Linked DNA regions of Homo sapiens: region 2 is linked to region 1. The links come from fine-mapping of genetic effects on gene expression. Tissue or cell type: whole blood. Region 1 holds a variant in brackets; the other region holds the start of a gene. All regions are shown on one strand. Distances are from middle to middle.

Region 1 (8,108 bases):
TGCAGTGAGCTCAAACTCTGCAGTGAGCCCCAGTCCAGCCTGAGCAACACAGCAAGATCCCGTTTAAAAAAGAAGAAGAAGAAGAAGATGCCATTATTTGGACCAGGAGTCTACAAATGTTTTCTGTGAAGGACCAAATAATAAAGATTTATTTTCTTTGTAAAAAGTATTTATTAATGTTAATTATAGTTAGGTGTTTCTTATAGTCAACTGAAGTATTTTTTCCTTTTTTTTCTACTCAACAATATGTCACAGAAATCTTTCTCATTTTTTAACAGCTGCATTGTGTGTATGTATGTAGTTTTTTATACAAGTCCTTATCGATGGGCATTTGTGTTGTTTTCAGTCTTTTGCTGCTACAAACAACGCTGTATTGTAGTGAATAACCTTGAACATACAAATTTCATACATGCGCAGGCAAATTTGTAGCATGGATTTCCAAAAGTTGGATTGCTGGGTTAGAGGATACATGCATCTGTAATCTGGTACATATTGCCAAATTACTCTCAATGGGAGTGTACCCACTTACATTTCCTCTAGCTATTTGCCTGAGAAGACAATCCTCAGTCACATTCTATGAGCTGATCATCTTTGACTCTTATATTAATTATTCATTTAACCAGTTTAGAAATAACAATAAATCCTTATTTTGAAGGGCCTATTTTCCATAGGTTTGTCTTTTGTGATTTCATTCCTGTACCTCATTTTTAAACTTTCTCCTTCTATAAATGTTGTAACAGGGACTATGGGTGACATGTGCTTTTTTATATATTTCTAGTTTTCCACTATGAACGTGTTTTATTTTTAAAATAATGGCTAAATTAAAAGCCCTAAATAGGGGAGTGAAGAAGAATAAATTAGATCTACCCTCCAAAATGCTGCTTGAGTTAGGCTATTGTAATAAAAAGCAGAACTTGGTTTTGAGCTTCTTAACTGCTTTCAGAGACTAAATATAAAACTTATTGGTTGGGAGAGGGGCATACTGTTCATTAAGGAAAGCACAATTTTTTCCGTAGCCTTCAAGTTTGTGAGAAATTTGTGACATGGAACCTTCTGCAATAATAACTAACATAATAGATGTTTTCCATTAGCAGTTTAAAAAGCTAATTAATCCTCGATGAATGCAAAAAGCAAAAGTTGCTCTATAAAGGCTACTCTGTAGAGGGATTTCTTTGATGTGGTTAAGATCATTGGTACTCAAGCTTTAGCAGACATCATAGTCACTTAGAGAGTTTGTTAAAAACACAGATTTCTGATCCCCATTCTTAGAATTTCTAATTCAGCAAGATTAGGGTAGAACCTGTGAATGTGCGTTTCTAGCAAGATACCAGTTATGTTGATGCTGCACTGGTCCAGGGACAACACTTTGAGACCCACCAGTCTACTTGTTCTACCATCTATTGACCTGACTTCATTTTAGAACAAAGTTGATGATCTATTAGCTATCTCCTATCTGACAGATAATGTAGAGATTGCTAAGAAGTTTTTAGAGACTAGATATTCTGTAATGTGAATGAAAGGAAATTGTTTATGCTCTAAATACCAAACTTTTAGATGACAAAGATAATAGGTGAAGAATTGGGTTACAAAAGTATGGGCTATAGGAGCACCTCCTGAACTCTCAGAAAGTAGCTAAGATTTCCAAGCAGATACACAATTGAACCTCCAAAGTTCATTGCTGTAAAGCACAAAAAAGCAAATGCCTGACCTAGAATATCTTGAAAGCAGAAATTACTGAACTTTCATCTCTACCTTATGACTTTTTCAACAGCTAGTTTTCACACAAAACTATTTTACCATATAAGTTATTCCATTAAGATTTCTAGCCGGGCATGGTGGCCCACGCCTGTAATCCCAGTACTTCAGGAGGCCGAGGTGGGCGGATCACTTGAGGCCAGGAGTTTGAGACCAGCCTGGCCAACATGGCCAAACCCCATCTCTACTAAAAATACAAAAAAATTAGCCAGGCGTGGTGGCACATGCCTCTAGTCTCAGCTACTTGGGAGGCTGAGGTGAGAGAATCACTTAAACCCGGATGGCAGAGGTTGCAGTTGAGCCGAGATCACACCACTGCACTCCAGCCTGGGTGACAGACCGAGACTTCTTCTCAAAAAAGGAAAAATGTCTAGAGGCCAGATGCAGTGGCTCATGCCTGTAATCTCAGCACTTTGAGAGGCCAAGGCAGGAGGATCACTTGAGGCCAGGAGTTTGAAACCAACCTGGGCAACACAGCAAGACCTCATCTCTACAAAAAATTAAAAATTTAGCCAGGCATGATGGCATGCACCTATAGTCCCAGCTACTCAAGAAGCTAAAGCGTGAGGATTGCTTGAAATCAGGAGTTTGGGGCTGTGCATGAGCTGTGATCATGCCACTGCAGTCCAGTCTGGACAACAGAGCAAGAACTTGTCTTAAAAAAAAAAAAGTGGGGTTGGGGGGTAACCCAGATAATTAATTATTTAATGTTATACATCTCAATATTAAAGTAAAACCTGTAAACACAACAGTTTAGGTTTGACTATTTCTTAGAATTACGACAATAAGCCAGTAATGTTATTTTGAGATTACTCCAAGAATGTGAAAGTTGTGTCATCATTATGTTAAACTAAGTGTTCTTGCCTTTAGTTAAGGTTCCCTAGACTACAGCGAAGTAGTCTACCCAGTCCAGTCATCTGTAGAGTCATTCCCAATCCTGAGATTCAGGTCTTCTGTGGTCATTGTGTCAACAAGAGCATACATTGACTACCTGGAACTAGATCTTGGTATACAAACCTTGTGTCATTGTGCAACCTCAAAAGGAGAGACTTGTATATTGAGGCATGCCAGATATCTCTTGTCAGAGAGAATCAGATGGAAATGAAGACAGTTCTTATTGTGTATGTTGATAGCTCAGACATAGCCCTTAACATTAACCAGAATTAGGGTGGCTGGCCCCATTTTTCTCCACCAAAACTATGCATTGTTACAAAGTATACTGAACAAGTCTAAAATCTTAGGTGTCAGAGGATTTGTTTTCTAAAAGGCAAGTCTCTAATAAACAATATTTAAGTGCTGAAAGGAGCTTTGCACTTAACCTGATCATCCTGCCTTGTGCCAATAAATAATTTTTATTCCTTGTCATGCATATTTCAGAGCATCTATCTCAGTCATGGTTCTGGGGAGAGAAGCCATAATATCTTAAGACATTCACTGAATATAATGAATTAACTTCATTTCTGTGTATCTAGGATGATATCAGCTGTGTACTTTCAGAGAACTGAGAAAATAGTCATCAGTCCTTTTTTGTGG[T/C]ATTCACACAAAATACCCAGATACCCAGTTGAAATCTTCCAGAGAGTCTTTAGTACCAGAGAAAACACTGTCATTTGCTTTTTGAAATTCAAATTCAGCTCTTTCTCCAACAACCAACATCACAGTTGAGACTCTAAGCTGAGGTAGAAAAAAGCCAACCCATTCCTTTCTGTATCAATCTCTCAACAAAAAATAAGGGTTTGATTCCCCCTCCCCGCCCCAGAGCTAGATATTGATAGAGAGTAATCAATGTAAAAGAGACTTTAGACAGAGTACACTACACTGCAAGAATGTTAATGTGATCAAGCATCAGGGGTCACAGCTAACTCAAAGACAGCAGGGGAGAGGGCATGTAGAATACTTATTAGGCAGGAAGGGAAATCAGAAAGGCCATGAGATCATTCATTTGTTTATTCAATAAATGTGAATTTATATACCTACGTTGGGTTAGATACTCTACTGAGTGCTAGGTCTATAGAAGTAGTAAAACATTGCCCTAGTCCTTAAGGTGTTCACATTCTAATAGGGAAAATAAACATAATAAACATAATTATAATGCAAAGTGTATTGTTAGAGATGGTACCACCTTCACTTGGTTGCTCAGACTGAAACCTAGAGGCTTTATTTTCTTTTTACTTTTATTATTATGGAAAATTTCAAACATACAAAAGGAGACAATAACATCATGAACCCCCTTGTACTTGTCACTCAGTTTCAGCAGTTACCAACTCATGGACAATTTTGTTCCATTTCTCTTTCCACCAACTTCCTTCCAATATTATTTTAAAGCAAGATGTCATATCATTTCATCTGTAAACATTTCAGTGTGTAGATCTGTAAGATAATGTCTGTTTTAAAAAACCATTCTCACAATACTGTCATCACTCCTAAAACAATTCACAAAAATTCCTAAATGTCACCAAGTAATGGGAGTCATTTTAAACTCTTGTTTCTCTCTTCTCAAGTCTTGTCTATTCCATCAGCAAGTCCTATTGGTCAACTTCCAGGCAGGTCACTTTACCACCCCTGCTATTACCACCCTACTTCTGCAGTCACATCTCTGTAGATACTAGAGTTTAAACCAACAGTTTACTTCTGCTCTTGGTTTTCCAAAGCTAGTTTTATTAATAACTGTTAGAGTGATCCTTTTAAAATTGTCTAAGACAGAGTACTCTTATTCGGTATCTGTGGGGGATTGTTTCCAGAGCCCCCTGTGGATACTAAAATCAAGTCCCTTATATACAGTGGTGTATGAAGCATTTGCCTATAACCTATGAACCTCCTCCCATGTACTGTAAATCATCTCTGGGTTACTTAAAATACCTTATATAGTGTAAATGCTGTGTAAATAGTTGTACTGTATTGGTTTTTAAAATTTTTATTTTTTATTGTATTGTTTTTATTGAGGTTTTTTTGGTGAATATTTTTGATCCACAGTTGGTTGAATCTGCAGCTGCAGAGGGCCAGCTGTATTCCATTTTCCTGTTCAGAACCCCACATGAGTTCACATTATCCCTGAATGACAATTCTCTAAGTTAAGTGATCTGCCTCTGCTGTTCTCCCTCCAGCCTTATCTACCACTCTCCTCACACTCCTCTCACTTTCTGCTTGTATAGATGAGTCATCTCCACCTGACTTACCTGGTCTTTTGCAATTGCTTAGACACACCAATTTGTTTCTGCCTCAGGGCTTTTCTGCTTCTGCCTGCAATGCTTTTCCCTCAGATCTTCACACCAGTCACTCCCTTACTTCATTCAGGCTTCTGCTGCAGTGTTACCCTCAGAAAGGCCTCCGACCATGTTGCCATTACCCACTTTCTCTCTTTTTTAAACTTAAGTTTTGTTCTCTTATACTTATTATCTAATATTATGAAATGTTTATTAGGATATATGTTCCTCACCAGAATGAAACTTTATGAGGGCATAGTCTTCATCTGCCTTTTTCCCACTCTGTTCTCAGTGCCCTAGCCCTGTGTGTAACATGTAATACGCCCCCAACAAATAAATGTTAATAAATTAATCAAATGCTTCCTTAAGACACAAAACAGTTCAACATATGTGAGAAACTTAAAATTTAAAAATGTATAGAACTAAAGACACCATAAGGACGAGTGACCAGCTGAGAAAACGAATATAATAATGTTAATTAGAACAAAAAGGATCATTTTAATATAAAGAACAAGGGATTTATATGAAGAATACAATGATATTCAACTTTTCTAGTAATCTGGAAAATACAAATTAAAACCACAGTGAAATACTATTACCCTCAGATTAGCAAAATATAAAAAGCCTGACAATATTAAGTATTGCGAAAGTTATGGAATAACTCTACTGGTGGGTATATAAATCGGTACAGTCACTTTGAATAGTTATTTGGCAATATCTGGTTAACCGAGGTGAAGATGTATCTCTGGCTCAGCTGTTAAATTCCTGGGTATATACCCTAGAGCAGACTTGTCCAACCCACAGCCTGCAGGCCACATGCAGCCTACAGGATGGCTTTGAGTGCAGCCCAACACAAATTTGTAAACTTTCTTAACATTATGAGATTTTTTTTGCAGTTTTTTTTTCTTTTTTAGCTCATCAGCAATCATTAGTGTTAGTGTATTTTATGTGTGGCCCAAGGCAATTCTTCCAGTGTGGCCCAGGGAATCCAAAAGATTGGACACCCCTGCCTAGAGAAACTGAAATATGTTCACGAGTAGTTTATTTCATTGCAGCAGTATTTCATGGAAATGTGGAAACAATGTAAATGTTAATATGCAGATTGGATAACTGTTGTATTTATGTAGTATATAGCTGTTAAAATGAATGATGTAGAGTTAAATATGCTCACATAGTTAGGATAAAATAGTATTGAATAAAAAACCAAATTACAGAAATATACATATAGTATCCTAATTTTTTTACTTAATACTTACAACTATTTGTGTACATATAGCTTTGAAATAAAAATATACCAAAAAATACAAGAACATGATAAACCAGCTAACAGTCATCTTGATGGTGGGAGGGACTTAGGGTCAGTGAAGCACACAAGGGGGAGCTTCATCTCTTCCCCAGCAAATGTGAGAAAATCCTAGATTTGATAAAGCTGTTTAATGGATAAAAGGGTATCTGTTAATATCATTTTCTATACTTTATGTATGTTTATAATATAATTTTAAAAAACTTTCCTAGTAAAGTTGCTTATTTTATATTTAGGAGTACATTTTCTCTCTGTGAAGATAATAAGACTAAAGCAAGAGTACATGTAATTTCAATAATGAAGTTACACTAAAATTGAGACCACATTCATGGGTAATAATTTCCAAGTGAAACTCCCCAAATTTAATTGATACTAAAATTTTAAGGAAAGCAGTTAATTCCTCTCCTAACTGGACAAACTAAGTATGGATTAATGACAGATGACGGTGAGTATAGTTAACAGGAGTGACCTCTCAGAGAATCGTGGGGATTGAGTGATGGGCAGGCTCTCAAACATCTAGGCAGCAGGCTGGAAAATTATATTCTTTGAGCTTAAGTTTATTTCCGATTGGTTTCCTCCAAGGAGCTTTGTCTTCTATGGACAGAGAAATATTAATACAACTTGAAAAAAAATGCTTTGCACTGACTCTGATAGCTGAATGATCATCAAATGCTCTTTAATGGCCTTTTAAAATTAAAAGGTATTTAATCTGTAACTCCAGGTGGTTCCCCTCTCTCAGCGAAGTGGTGTTCTTGAATGGTGCACAGGAACTGTCCCCATTGGTGAATTTCTTGTTAACAATGAAGATGGTGCTCATAAAAGATACAGGCCAAATGATTTCAGTGCCTTTCAGTGCCAAAAGAAAATGATGGTGAGTGACACCCAAAATTAAAGGTTATTGTAAGATTATTTAATGGCTTATTAAAGCTGACAGCTGTCAGATATTATAGAATACAAAAAAACTTTAATTTCATCAGGTAATTGTCAAAGATACTAAGTAAAAGAAAAACTCATCAGAATGAAAGTGTGTGAGTGAAAAAGGAAGGATTTTAAACTACATAATATGTCAACCCTTGTCAGATAAGAAATGTAAAGGTTATTCAATGTGTGCTGATTTGTTTTCAATTTGGGATAAACTAATTCTTAGCAAACAAAACACTAAAATGCCAGGCACGATGGCATGCACCTGTAATCCCAGCTACTTGAGAGGCTGAGTCTGGGGGATCCCTTGAACCCAGGATTTTGAGGCCAGCCTGGGCAACAGAGCAAGACCCCATCTCTAAAAAACAAACACAGTAAACAACAACAACAACAAGATTATGAAGTAATTTTTTATGAAACTGATATAGAAAACCTTCTGAGACATTTACAATGTCACATTGGCCATCTAGTCTGATATTCATTCGCTGAATCAGCAACATTTATTGTATGTTTTCTGTCTACCAGGTACTGTGCTGACTTAAGACTTCACAAATATCAAATATTACGACTAATCATCATAATCCTTATCCTCATTTTAAAATGAGAAGTTCAGAGAACTTGCCCAAGGCCAGTGAGCTAATAAACAGAGCAAGGATTTGAGCCTTGTCTAAATCCAAAATCCATTTATTGTTCATTTTATTGTGCTTTCTGTGACATGTTTTTTAAAATGTGTGATAAGTGCTATAGGTGTTGTGATGGAAGTCTGTACAGGGCACACAGGGTACAGTGTAGGTATGGAGGAGGAAGTGCTTAGTTCTGCCTGGGGTGGGGAGAATAGACAGAAGTAGATCCAAGAAATGCTTCACAGAGGAAAAGGTGTGTGAGCCGAGTTTTGTAAATGAGTTGTTTTTCCAGGCAGAAGGAGCATA
Region 2 (8,108 bases), 120 kb before region 1:
ATACTTTTGCAAATGTTTTATTAAATATCTATGTTTTGGTGATATAAAGGTGAATAGAACCAGCAGCTCTTGACCTGTTAGGGGTGTGTCAGTTTTGGTCCTGTTTGACCTCAAACACGTTCTTGACCCTTCTGTCGCTCTCTACTGTATGACATAAAGCTTGACTCTATATAGGCAATGTTCCCCAAGCTCTTCTGTCGGCCTGCTACTGGCTGGGCTCAGTAAATAGGAAGCACTGGTGGGAGGCTGGAGGGCAGGAGGAAGCAGCCATATTTTTCCCCCATTCCCTTTCTGCCTCAGTAGAGTCTCCTCTAAGACTACCACTCCCTCATCAGACAAGTCTTCCACGTTCCGCAGTCAAACCAGCCTCTTGATTGCTTCCTCTCTCCTTATCCTTCTCATTAGCATAGTGGCTTCCTACTGTTGCTAACCACTGAGATGCCTTAGTTGTAAGCTGCTGGGCGTCTTAGCTTTTCTCTCACCAGTGTAAACGAATTCTCTCATTAAATCTTTCCATGTTAAATACTCAGAATGGTTTCTACTTTTTTTACTGCATGCTGTCTCATACAGAAGGTAACAAATCTATTCAAGAAAACCTTCACAGATGATAGTTTTGGGGACTCCCAGAACTCTTGAAGCTTGTCCATTCATCCATGACTAAGACTACTAATAAAACAAAAAACCAAGTAAGTTTCAAATTGGGAAGATGAAAAAGTTCCAGAAACTGATGGTAGTGATGGTTGCAGAAAAATGTCAATATAGTTAACACTACTGATCTGTACATTAAAAACAAACAACAACAACAACAACAACAACAACAAACTCATTGTTTTGGGCTTTAAGAACTATACATTTTTAAGTGTTGAATTTTGTTAGTATATTTTATCAAAAAAAAGTAAACACACATCTACAATGAGACATGATAAGGTTGTAACAGAAGTACAATGCTATGGCAACATTTAAGAAGTACTGACTGTACTTGCTGAATGAAGTTTCAGAGATCAGGCATGACCTGAACCTTGAATAGAAGTGTACTAGGAAGACAAAGAGAAGTAGAATACATACAAGAATTTTCAAAGAAACTTCAATTCGTTTGGCATGTCTGCAGCATAAAACAGATGTTAGGAAGTTGAGATCAAGTTGGAGAGGTAGGTAGGATCAGTTCCACAGAGCACCTTGAATAAATAGATAAAAACTGAACTGATGGCCCAGAGGCAACAAACACTTTGATGTATTCTGGCCCACACAACATTTTGTAAAATCCCAGCAAGGCAATAAGGGCTACTTAAGTGGAGTAGTGAGATGCAAAAGTCAGAGTGCAGTATCCTGAAGGATAAAAGGTAGGTGAAGAACAGCAACTAAGTGGAATTCATTGTTCTTTGAATAAATTTGACTTGTGAAAGGGTGACACAGAACATAAGACAGAATGTTCTGTTTAATGGGTGTCTAATGTCTAGTGGGGTCCAGAAAAGTGTTTTTTTGTGTGTATGTTTAAGAATTTAAAAAAAACCTAATTATCTGAACACTAAGGGGAGAAAACTTAACTTCTCTATGTTCAGCAATTGGCACAGTGTTTGGAACATACTAGGCACCCAAAGATTTGCTAGAAAAAAAACATTATGAAGGGACCAATAACAAGAGGAGCTGAAGATGGCGAGGGGGTACTGATAGGAAAAGAATCATGAGTAAATAATAAACCTCATATGAGAAAGATATACACGATATGTATCTATTTAAGATGTAAAATGATAAACGACAAAAGTAAGAGCATTAGGCATGGGGAGGCTTTTTTGTATTGTATACTCCTGCCCATCTGAAATTTTTAGTAAGAATAGAATTATCTCAACTTTCAGACTAAAAGGTATAGTGTGAAAGCTTCAGGGAGATTTGTAACAACAGTAAATAAAATGAATTGCGAGGACAACTGTCTGGGAAGCCATGACAGAAGTCCAAAAGAGAAGTAATGGCAGGCACATTGCGGGATTGGTGGCAGTGAAAATGGAATGTGAATGACAAAGATTTTTAAGATAAGAAAACCATGGCTGGCGTTTTTTGTCCATTAAATGAAAAGCAGGAAGTCAGCAGAGTAGCTGGTTTGTGGAGAAAGAATACTCACACATCGATGTGAATTATTTCAATTAGAAAATGATACTGCTTTCTTAGGGCTTTCTTAACTAGGGGTGATTCTGCCCTCCAGGGGACATACTAGCAATATCTAGAGACATTTTCACTGATCACAACTGGGTAAGGGTAGGGTGGGGAACGGGTGTCCTACTGTAATCTAGTGAATAGAAGCCAGGAATGCTGCTAAACATCCTACAATGTTTGAGCACAGGATAGCTCCCCACAATAAAGAATTATGAGGCCCAAAATGTTAACAGTACTGAGGCTGAGAAACCATGTTTAAGACTATAGTTACCGAAACTCAACTAGATTACCAAACTGCCAAAACTCAGAATTCTTAAGCAAAAGATTAATCAGACATTAACAAAACATTAAACTTGTCATTAAGTTTCTTCAAAAATGGATGGTGGAACCATTTCCGTTTAACGTTTCCTGCAAAATGTGCTTATCAAGAGCCCTGCGCAAATAACATTTTTGTGGACAGCGCTGGGCATTTAAAAGAGGCACAAGACAAATGGGTTTTCCGAACAATAAAATAATAGTAGTAATGGCTGTGAATACTATGGGAGGTTTCATCACAGATGCTTGCCATTTACTTTTAGGGACGTCGCATACGACGTCCGTAAATTACTGGCTCGGGTTTTGAGCTTTACCTGGCTCTCGTCCCCTGTAGTACAATCCTCTTTATTCTTTCAGGGGACAAACAACAACAAAACCCGTCTCTCACACAGACAATACACCCTGACAGACAAGTGACCCACAAACAATCCCTCCTCAAATGAAGGTAAAACTAGGGCTAGAAAACGTTCAACTAATTTAAGGCAATTAACCCTCTGAAATTTTTCGCTGATCAAAGGAACAGGAATTGCTGTTTTAAAATATGCAACTGGCATTTCACACCTCTACACTGGACGACGTATTGCGTGGAGGATGGAGAAGGAAGATCACCCCTACTCCCAAATTCGTAGTTATAAGGGCGGGTTATTAGAAGGGCGCCAGGAAGGTCTCTCTACAAAGATGGGGGGCCGGGGAACTCCCTATTTGCCCTATTTTGGTCCCAACACTGAACCAAGGAAATTGCGCCCAAGGTTGAAGCACACGCAATCCGTCCGTCATGCAGACAAATGCTCTTTCAGGGGTCCTAATTAAGTGTGGAGGCCTGACTTTCCTTCCGAATCCGCCCCAGGTGTTCCACCCCGAGCTTCCCCTCGGGCTTCCCCTCGCCACGCAGCCTCTGAAGAGAGGAGCATCTACATACAAAGAGGCTTAAACTGCCCAGAACCTCCGAATGACGAAGAATCACCGCCAGTCTCAACTCGTAAGCTGGGAGGCAAAACCCCAAAGCTTCCCTACCAAGGGAAAACCTTTGGCCTCAAAGGTCCTTCTGTCCAGCATAGCCGGGTCCAATAACCCTCCATCCCGCGTCCGCGCTTACCCAATACAAGCCGGGCTACGTCCGAGGGTAACAACATGATCAAAACCACAGCAGGAACCACAATAAGGAACAAGACTCAGGTTAAAGCAAACACAGCGACAGCTCCTGCGCCGCATCTCCTGGTTCCAGTGGCGGCACTGAACTCGCGGCAATTTGTCCCGCCTCTTTCGCTTCACGGCAGCCAATCGCTTCCGCCAGAGAAAGAAAGGCGCCGAAATGAAACCCGCCTCCGTTCGCCTTCGGAACTGTCGTCACTTCCGTCCTCAGACTTGGAGGGGCGGGGATGAGGAGGGCGGGGAGGACGACGAGGGCGAAGAGGGTGGGTGAGAGCCCCGGAGCCCGAGCCGAAGGGCGAGCCGCAAACGCTAAGTCGCTGGCCATTGGTGGACATGGCGCAGGCGCGTTTGCTCCGACGGGCCGAATGTTTTGGGGCAGTGTTTTGAGCGCGGAGACCGCGTGATACTGGATGCGCATGGGCATACCGTGCTCTGCGGCTGCTTGGCGTTGCTTCTTCCTCCAGAAGTGGGCGCTGGGCAGTCACGCAGGGTTTGAACCGGAAGCGGGAGTAGGTAGCTGCGTGGCTAACGGAGAAAAGAAGCCGTGGCCGCGGGAGGAGGCGAGAGGAGTCGGGATCTGCGCTGCAGCCACCGCCGCGGTTGATACTACTTTGACCTTCCGAGTGCAGTGGTAGGGGCGCGGAGGCAACGCAGCGGCTTCTGCGCTGGGAAATTCAGTCGTGTGCGACCCAGTCTGTCCTCTCCCCAGACCGCCAATCTCATGCACCCCTCCAGAGTGGCCCTTGACTCCTCCCTCTCCTCACTCCATCTTTCCTGGCCTCTCTCCGGGTGCTTAGCGGACTTGGCCAATAACCTCCTCCTTTTAAACGCCCTGAATTGAACCCTGCCTCCTGCGCATCCTCTTTTTGTGTCACCTTAGGGTTCAGATTTAACTACGCGACTTGACTAGTCATCTTTTGATCTCTCTCTCGTATTTAGTACTTTTAGTCAGCGAGCATTTATTGATATTTCAACTTCAGCCTCGCGGTTAAGAGCTTGGGCTCTGGAATCATACGGCTGGAATTGGAATTCTGTCAGTCGTGTGGCCGCTCTCTACTGTCTTGTGAAGATAAGTGAGATAATCTTGACCTGTGGTGAGCACTCGTGAGCGTTAGCTGCTGTATTTACCAGGTACAGATAAGACAACTACAGTGGATGATAATGTATGTGGTGATAGGGGAGTACTCTGATGGTAGAGGAGTGACTTTGGTTCTCTGCAAACTCAGCCTGAGACTATCAATTCAGTTTGTGGTGAGACCTCGCAGTGTTACCTTGGCAGATGGTAGAAGCCTTCCAGATGGAAGGAAAAATGCGTGTAAAGGCACAAAGTGTAGAAGGACCCTGAAGCTCCAGCGTGAGGCCTGGCATTGAATGAAATATATTTTGTGGGTTTTCAGCTGCTGAAGTCATAGGAATGGATGAGACCAAGAAAACAAAGCTGTTTTTGAGGTATGAGCGGAAGAAGAGATATCAGGAGACTTTCGAAACAGTCATAACGGAAGTTAATATGATCATTGCTAACATTTGCTGTGTTTCAGGCACTGTAAGCATGTATATGGGTCCTTAAAGGGACTCATAGAGGTAGGTACTAGTATTGTTTTTCCTTTTATCATTGAGAAACTGAGGTTTGAAGAGATTAGTGAACTTGCTCTAGATTATACAGTTTGTAAGTGGCTGAACCAGGATTTGAACTAATACAATCTGACTACAGAGGCCACACTCCTTAGCACTAGAAAAGAATGGCATGCCAAGGGCAGAGTTATTTCTAGGAAGATGGGATATAAGCGTCATTGTCAAGTTGTGCAAAGGGGTCAACTTGGTTGAGATCTAAAAAGGAACACTGAATTCGTCAATTCAGAGGCTCGTAGGAAGTAGGAAATCCTTATCTTTTCGTTTGAACCTTGAGTGGAACCTAGATATTCTGGATTAATGTATAAATGAAGTTCATCTTTATATGGTGACACTCATACTCTAGTTGACTACCTAATAGTTCCTCTGCCTTCTTTCAGTTCCGCCAACATACTGTGTTCTTTAACATTGTAGAACCCTTTGGCTATGCTAGTCTCCTTCCCTGAAGTGTTGGTCCTCTAGCCCTTTTTTTGATTGGCACCAGTTAGTTCAGATCTTGGCTTTATTATAAACTCCTCTGAGATATATGTTCCCTGACAGTTTATCTAAAATGATTCTCTCTACAGTTATTTTCTATTACTGTGTTTTTGTTTCCTCAGAGGCATACATCACAATTTGGAATTATGCATTGGTTTATCAATTTACTTGTTTATTGTCACCCTGCTGCCCAGATATGACTTCATGAGGGTAGGATTTGTATCTGTTTAGTTCATTATTTGTCTAGCTATAAGTAGTAAATATTGTTTGCATCTATCAGTGAATGAGCATCTTCTGTTTATGTAGATAATACTGAACTGTTTTGTTTTCTTCAAAGTAATCATTAAGCTGAAGGTAAGAAAAACAAGTTCAAGGAAGTCACACCATGGGGAAAAAAAAGTCAAGTTTAGGGCTGCCTCTTCCGGGAAGTGTCAAATCTTTAGTATATTTAGGAATAAAGGTGCCAAACCTTATGGTTCTTTGGATATTGCTAAGGTATTTTCATTGGTTAGATTACCAGTTTCATTTTCCTTATTGACTCAAGAGGGCTTTAAACTGAGATTGAAGAAGTAAGAAGATTCCTAGATAAAACCATAAGGAATGGAAAAACAAAAATGATAATACTTGTCCACAGGAAGTATATAATCAAATGAAAAGAACTCAAATAACAATCTGTAATCTATAGCAGAGTAAAGCGGAAGTTGTAATAGTGTTGGGGGATGGGGGAAGTCAGAAGAACCACCAGTGAATATAAAAGGAGAAGAGAATCAGAGCCATCTGCTAATAAAATGGGTAGTCAGCTCTTTTTGTTTTTTTTGTCTTGTTTTGTTTTGAGACAGTCTCGCTCTGTCGCCCATGCTGGAGTGCAATTGCGTGATCTCAGCTAACTGCACTTTCCGCCTCCTGGGTTCAAGTGAGTCTCCTACCTCAGTCTCCCCAGTAGCTAGGATTGCAGGCACATGCTACCACACCTGGTTAATTTTTGTATTTTTAGTAGAGACGGGGTTTCACGATGTTGGCCAGGCTGGCTGGTCTCGAACTCCTGACCTCGTGGAACGCCCACCTCGGCCTCCCAGAGTGCTGGGATTACAGGCATGAGCCACCACGCCTAGCCCCGGTAGTCAGCTCTTACTGAGAATATTCAAAGACAGGGCATTCATTTTGTAAGAGACATTCCTTCCTTCATAGGAAGATTGGACCTGGTCTTTTAGTTCCTCCCAATTTTGAGATTCTGTGAGATTGAATCGGGGCAGAGAAACATACTTAATCTTGAAAGATTAAGTAGAATTTAGATGGATGGATAGGAGAAGGACTTTCCCTACCTTTTTACTTCTTGAGATATAGTTATTTGTAGGTATAATATACATAAATATATGTATTTTTTCTCTGTTTACAGACATTCATAGTTTAATAAAAAACTTCTTTGTATTATATAAAGGTTTAGATCAGAACTAGTAAAACAGAATGCTGTTTCTTTTTTTTTCTTTTCTATTTTACTTTAGGTTCTGTGGGTAGATGTGCGGGTTTGTTACATGGGTAAATTGCATGTTGCTGAGGCTTGGTGTACGAATGATCCTGTCACTCAGGTAGTGAGCATAGTACCTGATAGGTAGCCCTTCAAGCCATACCTCCCTTTCTTTCCAACCCTCAAACAGTCCCCAGTCTCTGTTCTTCCCATCTTTGTGTCCATGTTGAAATGCTGTTCTTACTACATTTTTTTGAAGGACATCAAAAGAGAGTTTGATTATATCAGAAGCCCCCAAAAGAAGAGAGCTACTCAGTGGAATCAAGGCATAGTAAAATATAGTTGATCCTTGATATTTGCAAAGGATACCACCATAGCATAGAATTTGCTTCATTTCCTTTTAAAACAGAAATGTCATTTTACTCCTATTGTTATGTGTTAAATAAGAACCTTAATACCAGTTGAGATGGAAGTGGTAGACAAAGCTTACTAGCTCTGATAACCTCCTACTTATCAGCTCCAAAGCATGTTTTAAGCCTTTGGCTCAGCAAAATGACATGTCTCTCCATATAAGCAAGAGTGCTTTTTTTTTTTTCTTTGAGACGGAGTCTTGCTCTGTCACCAGGCTGGAGTGCAGTGGCGCGATCTCCGCTCACTGCAACCTCTGCCTCCTGGGTTCAAGCGATTCTCCTACCTCAGCCTCCTGAGTAGCTGGGACTACAAGAGCACACTACCACGCCTGGCCAAGAGTGCTTTTAAATAGTTCATTGTCAATGTTAAATCCTTGAGTGCTCATTTCCTTATTTACCTGGCTGTTTTCTATTCATCTTTCATGTCTCAATTTAAATGTCATGTTTCTTTGGTCTCAGAGTAATAAAAAGTAAATATACTTCCCCCATCTCCCGCCCCGCAGAGCCTTCCT

Evidence for each region. PIP is the estimated chance that this variant, and not a neighbour inherited with it, causes the effect.
Region 2: it holds the start of NPAT, and the variant in region 1 is fine-mapped to the expression of NPAT in whole blood (TOPMed, PIP 0.94).

Annotation. Positions count from the first base shown.
Region 1 is chr11:108,336,243-108,344,350 of GRCh38, forward strand. ATM (ATM serine/threonine kinase) reads left to right here. Exons shown (of 63, transcript NM_000051.4): 57 at 6,980-7,129. It also overlaps a transcript of C11orf65 not described here. Among named protein-coding and RNA genes, the nearest start is that of ATM, 120 kb to the left of the region's middle. RefSeq lists a silencer at 2,687-2,887. The variant T/C (reference allele first, on the strand shown) is at 3,289.
Region 2 is chr11:108,218,941-108,227,048 of GRCh38, forward strand. NPAT (nuclear protein, coactivator of histone transcription) reads right to left here and starts at 3,698. Exons shown (of 18, transcript NM_002519.3): 1 at 3,560-3,698. The coding sequence starts at 3,596. ATM (ATM serine/threonine kinase) reads left to right here and starts at 4,127. Exons shown (of 63, transcript NM_000051.4): 1 at 4,127-4,246. RefSeq lists enhancers at 117-618, 3,594-3,653, 4,064-4,223, 4,534-4,613, 4,964-5,013 and 1 more.